Linked DNA regions of Homo sapiens: region 2 is linked to region 1. Evidence: fine-mapped expression QTL. A gene starts in region 1. The other region holds a variant in brackets. All regions are shown on one strand. Distances are between the middles of the regions.

Region 1 (4,387 bases):
GAGGAGTGGCAAGGCCCAGACTCGGAGACTCTCCTAAATTTGTGAAAAGAGTTATTAGCAAAACAGGAGGAAGGGAACAGTCACTGAAAATTCTCCCCATGCTGAGCACTGCTAGGGGATTTATCTCAAGACTCCCAACAAGAACCTTTGGGGCCAGGAATCATCACCTCTATTTTCCCAGAAAGCAGAGGACCTGTTCCCCAGATCCCCCATCTGGCCATGGCTGGGCCTCCTCCACCTCTGAGGCCCAGCGTTGCAGAGGATGGTGACACATCCGCCTTGGGGCCCCCTGCAGGGATGTGGGGTTGATGAGAACTGGCTGCAGTGCCTCGTTCTCCCACCAGTGAGGTTTGTGGTGGTTATCACTAGCTTCAAAGGTCAGCTGGCTCTTGGGAAACAAATAGAAGCCTCACCCTCCCTTCCCGTTGGAAACTTTGGCCTCAGCTGCAGAGTGGATGCCTGGGAGAGGCTGCAACATCCAGCCTCAGGGAGTCCAGCTGCCCCTGGAGGTCTGCCAAGGCTGTTCTCAGGGTTTGTCCCAGTTGGGTCTGAAGGCCAGGAGGCTGCACTCTTCTGTGGCGGTCTGACCTGGACACTCCCTGGTGACCATCTCCATCAGTGGTTCTCCTCTCTAACTGCTCATTAAAAGTCTGCTGATGCCTGGGCCCCACCCCAGACCAATAAAATCAGATTTCCTGGAGGAGGGCCATGCATCAACATTTTTCTTTTTTAAAGCACCCCTAGATAATTTCAGAGTGCCGTCAGGATTGAGGGATGCTGATGTAGATAAACATAAACGTTAGTGATCAAAGGACAGAATAGGAAAAATATTTGAAATCTGGATGAAAGAGGATCTGCATTAGACAGCAGCCATCCAAGGCCAGGAGGCTTGGCGGCTAGGATTGAGCAGGACTGTGGAATTCTTGGAAGGAATTCATCTGTCTGGGAACTGGCATGACTCGGTTCCCCAGGGGCAGCGGGCGGAACCCCGTGACTCCAGGTCCTCGGTCCTCCTGGGCCACTGTGCCTGCCTCTGTGGTCTGCATCTGGGCCGTGATGCGCCTCTGAGCCTCAGGTCTTCCAGTCAAACTGGACTCCCTGCCATTCCGAGAACGCAGTCTGCTCTTTCCTGCTTCTCGGTTTGGGTTTCAGGCATTTGTTTCTGTCTGGAATGTCTTTTCCGATCTGTTCAAATCATTCCTTTTCAAGGTCCCTGCCCTACTGCCAGCTCCACCAGGAAGCCCTCGCCACACCTTCTGCATGTGCCTGTACTCCACAGCGCCCTCCTGCGGCACTGCCCAAGGTGTGCCCAGACTATAAATGCAGAGGGTGAGGACCAGTCAAATCCCCTCCTCCACCTGTCCCGGGGGCGGAAGGCACGTGCACAGAGGAGCCTCCCACCTCTTTTGAATGCCATGGACTGTGTCCGTGTTCCAAGACAGGGTGGAAGCCTCTTCTCTGCCCACACCCCTTCCTGATAGTTCTCCAGCCCCCCTGCCGCATTTCCTGAGTGCCACGGCGCCTTGTGGTTAGCAGTCAGTGACAGGGAAGCGCTGGGACCAGGCCTTTTTACCCAGCACGTGGTGTCTACAGTGCCAGTGGAGCCTCCCCCGGAGAGGGTCGGCATAGAGTGGGGTGGGGAATGAAAGCTCTTCCCACAGACAGACCCAGAGTCTTAAGGGGAAGGGGAAGACCCCAGCGACCTCCGGTGTCACCGAGGCCCGTGCTGGTGCTCAGGAACCGCCTTCTCCCAATAACGCAGCGCGAGCGACACGGGGCGGGGGCGCCTCGGGCGCGCTGGCTGGGGGCCCGCGGGGCGCCGCTCCGCAGTGGAAGGGGGCAGACTTCGGAAGCGGCCGCCGGCTGCTGGGGGTGGGAGACTTGCTCCCTCCTTCAGTCGCCCGCCGTCAGCCCGCGCTGCAGGTGACCTGGTCAGTGCCGATCGCCCCGCCCCCGCCCAGCCGTCTCCGTGGGGTTTTCCGGCTCTGCGCGCCTCAAACGACCTCGGCTGCCGCCTGCCCGGCAGCTCCCCGCGGTCCCCCACGTTCCCCCGCCCCCCGGGCCGCGCGGCAGGCCTTTCTGATGAGTCAGCGGGAGCCCGGGAGCCTCCAACCGCCCCGGGCATCTGCTCCGGTGACGCACCCTGAGTCACGGGCGCCCGGGCCGCCGCCGAGGCCGAGCGCGCAGCCGGGAGCGCCGAGCGCAGCCCCTACGCCTGCCGCGGGCGCCCACCCAGCCCGGCCCGGCCCCGCACCCTTCCTCCCTCGCTCCCAGCGCCGCCCGCCCTGCACTCCCTGGCCCAGCTCCAGGCTGACATCAGACGCTGGCCGCCCGGCCACCCTCTGAGTCAACAGTTTCCGAAGCAGAGCCCGCTGCCAGGGGCGGGGAGAGAGCGCGGCCTCCGGGGGAGGCGGGGGCGGGCACCGGTCTGGCAGCCGCGGGAGGGCGGAGGTGGGTGGGGACGCCGGAGCCTTTTACAAGAAGTCACGGGGGATGGGGGAGAAGAGAGGGCGAAAACCACCCTCTGCAGAGCTGCCGGGGCGGAGAGGAAACCCGCCGCCCCACACAGCCACGTGCTGAAGCCCTCACTGAGTGGGTGGCTGGGAAGGGAACCCGAGGGCGGGAGGAGGGGGAGGCACTTGCTGGGAAAGGCCCTGGGCCAAGTTTCTGAGGGAGGAAAAGAACCACCTTTGGACACCCTGGGTCCCAGGGGCCCAGCAGATATTTGTGTCTGGATAACAGGGCCCCACCCAGTTCCCTTTGATGGGAGCAGCTCTGGCCGAGCCCTACTCTTGGGGACTGGTGCTGCCTGCTTGGGGTCCGACTTGAAGAACTGCACTGACCTAACCTGACCCCCTCCCTTGACCACAGACCCTGTCACCATCGTGGGATGATGGGGTTGGAAGGATGTATGTCTGAGGGTAAAGGAATTCAAGAGCCCCAGTCCATTGAGAGTCACCTTCCTCGCTGTAACAAGGCTGGGCACTATGGTCTGCCCCTGAGTTGGTGCTGGGTAACCACTCTGAGAGGCTGCATCTGTGGTTCTAGAATGCTCAAAGTGAGCAAGAGACCCTTAAAAAAAGCATCTACCTGCAGGGGGACTAAGTGGCTTCTAGAAGCTTCTTTAACCCCGCAGATTTCCCTGATCACGTCAGGCAGGAAGGAAGGGTGACGTGGAGCCAGGAGGACAGAGTAAGGCAGTAAGCATCCACAGGTGCTTGGATTTCCTTCCCTCCACCCCATCGCACCCCGCCCACCCATGCCATGCCCCCCAGGATAGCAAGACAGGGCTGTCATTGGTGGGCCTCCGGCTGGAATTCACGCTCAGCTTCTTTCCGGGATTTGAACTTGTTGTTCTTTCCAAAGCCATGGTTCAATAAATGATGCCAACCTGGGAAGGGGAGGTGTCTTTCTCATCTTGCAGGCAGAAGCGGCATAACAGCTGGGTGAACAGAACCGGTCTGGATCTGTCCAGAGCTATTTGTCAGCACAGCTTTGCAGAAACTATGTGAGCGTCTCCTTGCTCCATATGACCCCCATTCAAACTCATGCTGAGAAAGAGCTCCCAGTCCACCTCTGCTGGGGCAGTCTTTTCCCAAGTGTGACTTTTCCAAGGGTGGGTGGTTCATTTCTGCCAATCTAACCCAGCTCAAAATAGCATTGAATCAGACTTCTGGGAAGCCCTGTGCTCCAGGCGCCTGTAGAAAAGAGTTAAAAATGACATCTCTTGGGAAACCAGGGGGTCTAATTTTGCTGAGGTGGGACAAGATGCAGAGCCCTGTGACATCAGAGGGAAGAAATAGTGGCCAGGGATAGGTCTGGAAAGTGTGAGTGGTGGAAGGTCCTGTGCTTTATGTGGTTGCCCTTTGGGAAGTCCGTGGCCTGGCCCAGTGGGGGGCAGGTATCCTGGGAGCTAAGGCCAGGTGTAGGAGGGGGCTGTGGCTTAAGCCACAAACTCCACAACCTCCAACTTCCACATTTTCCTTCAGGCTGAGAACCCGAACTGTCTCAGTAGGGGTTGACTCCTCCACCGTTTCTAATTCTGATTACTTACGCTTTTGGCTTGGGCCCAGCTGGATTGCCACCTTTATGAAGCTTTTCTCATGAGTTAACTTGACCCTTGGCACTTCCACTACAGCCTTTACCATGCTTTGCCTGCTTTGAGAGGCTTTGCTTTATTCGGCTTTCCTCTCCACCCAGCAGCCCACTGGGAGGCAAGCACTCCATCCTTGCCACTCGTTAGTGGAACTCCCAGGGAAACAAATGAGCTGTCGGCTCTTCTGTCTTCTGCCCCCACGTTTGGTCTCATAGGCTTCCTTTGTGTCTGATGGGGCTTCCTGTGTGCTGTCTCTGCTTCCAAGACAGCCTCATCTTGGGTTTTGACCCT
Region 2 (4,387 bases), 20 kb before region 1:
AACCTACTACATAATCTAGGCCATGTGGTATATTGATCCTAGGCTACAAACCTGTACAGCATGTTACTCTGTTTAATACTGTTGGCAGTTGTAATGCAGTGGCGTTTGTGTATCTTAAGTTACTTAAACATAGAAAGGATAATACATTGTGCTATGACATGATTGCTGCGATGTAACGAGGTGATAGGACTTTTTAAACTTCACTGTAATTTTACGGTATACCACAGTCATATGTGTAGTCTTTGACCAAAACATCACTCTGCAGTGCATGACTATCATAGAAAAATGATGATCTTTTAAAGGTTTTTGGAAGACTAGTTATAATCCTGTTTTATTATCCATTTGTTATGTGATTACGTGGTCTTTGGGCTTAAACTGAGAATTTAGCTGATTTTTTTTCTACGTAGGTATGAGATGCAAGATGCTGGAATTACTTCAGACTCAATGATGAAGAACTTCTTCTTTGTGCCTTCTTGCATTCAGCTGAGCCAAGAAGACAGCTTTTCCGCTGAAGCTTAAACAGGCATTAACGCTTCTTTAGATCTGAAGTTGCAGGTTAAGCTTGTCTGGTCAACATTCCAGTGTGGAAAAATAATTTAAACAATCTTATTCTCTTAATTCTTTTGGCAACAAAAACTATTAGTAATAGCTATTTGGGACCAGACAAAATCAGCTTTCATCTATAATTCATTGGGGATAATGGGAGATTTAGATAATGTATCCAGATTTAAACCTACCAGTTTGTCCTACCCCTTAAGCGTTTAAAATAAAATATGCAACAAAATGGATGACTTAGTGGAGATGGAAGCCCATTAATTGGGTTCCCCATTAAATCGTTTACATACAAGAACACAGTTTTTATACTAAGGATTTGTGTTTAAAGTCTTGTAAAGTTCATGTCTTTCACCCAGATATATCAAATGTTAGAAGACCAGTGTGACTTCATTAGATAACGTTTAGTGTATTTAGAATGTGTAAATTTGTGCTTTGAACTGTAGTTTAATAAATGTAAAATTGCATCATAGTATTTGTTGACCTAATGTAACCCTTGTATGATTGCAATAAAATTTTGTGTAGATTTTACTGTTTTTTCAGGCTAAAACTTTGGGAAAGGGGCTAGCTAGCAAAGGTAGTTTTGAAATAGATGTGTATATGGACTGTTTTGAAGGGTTTTTTTCTTTATAGCCCAGTTAAGTTTTGTTTGGCTCGGTGCATTTTTCATTTATTTAATTAGTAATTTAAGTAAAGTGTTTGGTAAATCATTGTGAAGTTCAGATTCATTATGGAGAGTTGATGTGCAGTAAGCATGATGTTTAACAATTTTAACACCAAAAATGTTAATCCTGCATAAATCAACTGTAATAATAAATAGGTGTTTCTGTATAGATAGAATGCATAGAGTACCTTAGTAAATCTTTGAATCACAATCTTTTGGCTGAAATGGAAGATTCTGTTAAATACTTTGAATAAACTTGGGGGGAGGGAAATAAAATTGCAGAAAACTGCAGAGCACTAAAACTTAAAGAAGGGCTACATCTTTATCCAGAAACCTGTTGCTCTTTTGCACGGAATGTTTAAATTCAGAGTTGGGATGGGGGTTGGGGTGAAGCACACTTATTATCTTCAGTTGCAGTGATTTCAAATTTAGGATTTTTTGTTGTTGGTTTGAACTGTCCCCTTAGTTTCTTGTTATTTCCAATTTGTTCTGCTTAGTCATTACTTTTAATTCTTTTCTTACTAAAATTTTATGGTGGTTGGGGGAAGGGAGTTAGCATCACTAACCTGACAGTTGTTGCCAGGAATTTGCTTTGTTTACTGCTAGTATATTAGAAATCCTAGATCTCAGAATCACAATAGTAATAAACAACAGGGGTCATTTTTTCCTAACTTACTCTGTGTTCAGGTGTGGAATTTCTGTCTCCCAAGAGGAAATGTGACTTCACTTTGGTGCCAATGGACAGAAAATTCTACCTGTGCTACATAGGAGAAGTTTGGAATGCACTTAATAGCTGGTTTTTACACCTTGATTTCGAGGTGGAAAGAAATTGATCATGAATCTCTAATAAATTTAAATCTCTTAAACCAGTAGGTGCTTAATATTTTTTGATTTGATTAATGCCCATTTAAATCTCATGGGTTCTATTAAAAA[T/A]ATATATATATAGGGCCCCAATCCATTGCCATCAAATTGCCCTTGGACTTTTCCAAGGTATATTATGGGGTTTTATGCAAAATTCCAAGCTACCATGTAACTTTTTTTAACCATTTAACAAGGAGGGGGAACTGTTTCCTACCTTCTTTACATGTTGTGCATTGTTGTGGTCCAGAAATGCCAAACCTTTTTAAAGATGGTGCAACTTTGAGTCCTTGGCTTGACTATACAGGCCTTGAACTTCATGGCATATCAACTTTGCCATATCTGCAGGAGAGCTGTTCTATAAGAAATAGCTCAGAGTTGCAAATATCACATGTGAATGATACGGTAACTTTTAAGAAATGTCTGTATTGTATTTGAAGACTGTTTGCCATAAATCTGAAATTTGAACCTATGTATTTCAATTTGGTATGCTAAAAAGTTCTGAATTAATGTAAAGTTTTTTGTTATAATATTGTAATCTCAGTTCAAAAGTTAACTGCAAATATAAAACCCAATGATTTCTATATAGTAAATTGAACTGTAAAGGTAACTTGTGTGTGATTCTGAATACATAGATAAATGTTTTTATTCCTCATGTTTTACTTTGGCTTCTATCTGAAATAGAGGTAAAATTTTACATATCAGCTTTATGTGTATTAACAATCTTGCTTTATTAGAAAGAAAATTGATTCTGCTAAAAAATGCTGGAAGTTATATATAGAACAGTGAAATTTTGGTAAAGTCCAGTATATATGTGAGCACTGTTTCCAGGACAGCCTTTTCTAGACACTTCAGTTCACTAGCCTCCTAACAATTTAAAACCCGGACTAAATGAATAGATTGACAAATTAAGCTAGATTTATTCCAAGTAAATATGGGCATTAATACCATTAAATGGAAATACTGGGTTAGAGAAGCCACACATTGCTTAATTCCTTTTTTCTTCTTTTTAGAGTATATATTTTAGTTTCCTAACCTGTCTTGGCCTTAAGAAGTCTTCTGAACTCTGCTGAAATGAAAAGCATCATCTCTTTGTTCTTTGAACACTTTAGTTAACTGGGTGACTTAATATTTTGGGGAGTAACTTTAAATTCAAAGATTTACTTAATTATTCAGGCAATGCACTAGTATAGGGTGGTGGTTAAAGGTGTAGACCTTGCCTCCAGTCTGCTTGACTCAAATCCTGCCTCTGCCATTTACTGTCTGTATGAACATAGGCTAGTCACCTAACCCTTTTGTGCTTCGGTTTTCCCAGATGGAAAATCGTGGTAAGGCCAGGCACAGTGGTTTATGCTCGTAAATGCCAGCACTTTGGAAGGTTGAGGTGAGAGGATTGCTTGAGCTCAGGAGTTCAAGACTAGCCTGGGCAATGTAGGGAGACCTGTGTCTCTCCAAAAAAATTCAAAATTAGCTGGTAGTCCCAGCTACTCAAAAGGCCAAGGTGGGAGGATTGCTTGGGCCCAAGAGGTGGAGGCTGCAGTGAGCCGCGATCACACCACTGCACTCCAGCCTGGGCAACAAAGTAAGACCCTATCTCTAATAAGAAAAGAAAGAAAATGATGGTAGTAAAAGTAGCAGCTTCATAAGGTTATAAGGATGTAACAGTTACAAGGTGCTTAGAACTGGCTGGCACACAGGGCTCAATAAACGACCCTTATTACCTATTAGATTGATTATACTGATTTGGACAAGTTGCTCTGGGCCTTGGTTTCTTGTCTGTAGGATGAAGACACTAGAACTTAACCTTACCAGGCCTTGAAAGTGCCTGGCACATGGATGCAAATGGCAGATACTGCCAGTGGTTGATAGCTTGGTATTAAGATCTCTTTAGCATGTACTTGACCATTCTCTTTTGTCCTTGTAAGTTGGACTTTTGGTTGGGCATCAGAGAAGGTTTTGTATTGCTGCCTTTTAGTTGATTTAATTTTAATGTAACCTTATAGTATTAAAGCACAGGCCAGGCACAGTGGCTCACGCCTGTAATCCCAACAATTCAGGAGGCTGAGGCAGGCAGATCACCTGAAGTCAGGAGTTTGAGACCAGCCTGGCCAACATGGTGAAATGCCATCTCTACTAAAAATACAAAAATTAGCCAGGCATGGTGGCGCACACCTGTGCCAGCTACTCGAGGCTGAGGCAGGAGAATTGCTTGAACCTGAGAGGCAGAAGTTGCAGTGAGTGGAGATTGCACCACCGCACTCCAGCCTGGGTGACAGAGCAAGACTCCATCTCAAAAAAAGAAAAGAAACACAG

Direction of the effects. Positions count from the first base shown, and alleles are read on the strand shown. Sizes are in standard deviations (SD) of each study's normalised expression.
In carriers of allele T in region 2, the expression in lung of the gene that starts at base 1,937 in region 1 tends to be higher than with A alone (small effect, 0.33 SD a copy in GTEx).

Evidence for each region. PIP is the estimated chance that this variant, and not a neighbour inherited with it, causes the effect. A credible set is the group of variants that fine-mapping cannot tell apart.
Region 2: its variant is the best candidate, but not a certain one, in a credible set for the expression of GASAL1 in lung (GTEx, PIP 0.82).

Annotation. Positions count from the first base shown.
Region 1 is chr8:102,804,580-102,808,966 of GRCh38, reverse strand. It overlaps GASAL1 (growth arrest associated lncRNA 1), which reads right to left and starts at 1,937. Exons shown (of 2, transcript NR_149020.2): 1 at 414-1,937; 2 at 1-33. RefSeq lists an enhancer at 99-725 and a silencer at 1,711-2,510.
Region 2 is chr8:102,824,699-102,829,085 of GRCh38, reverse strand. It overlaps AZIN1 (antizyme inhibitor 1), which reads left to right. Exons shown (of 12, transcript NM_148174.4): 12 at 408-2,778. The coding sequence ends at 519. Among named protein-coding and RNA genes, the nearest start is that of GASAL1, 20 kb to the right of the region's middle. The variant T/A (reference allele first, on the strand shown) is at 2,150.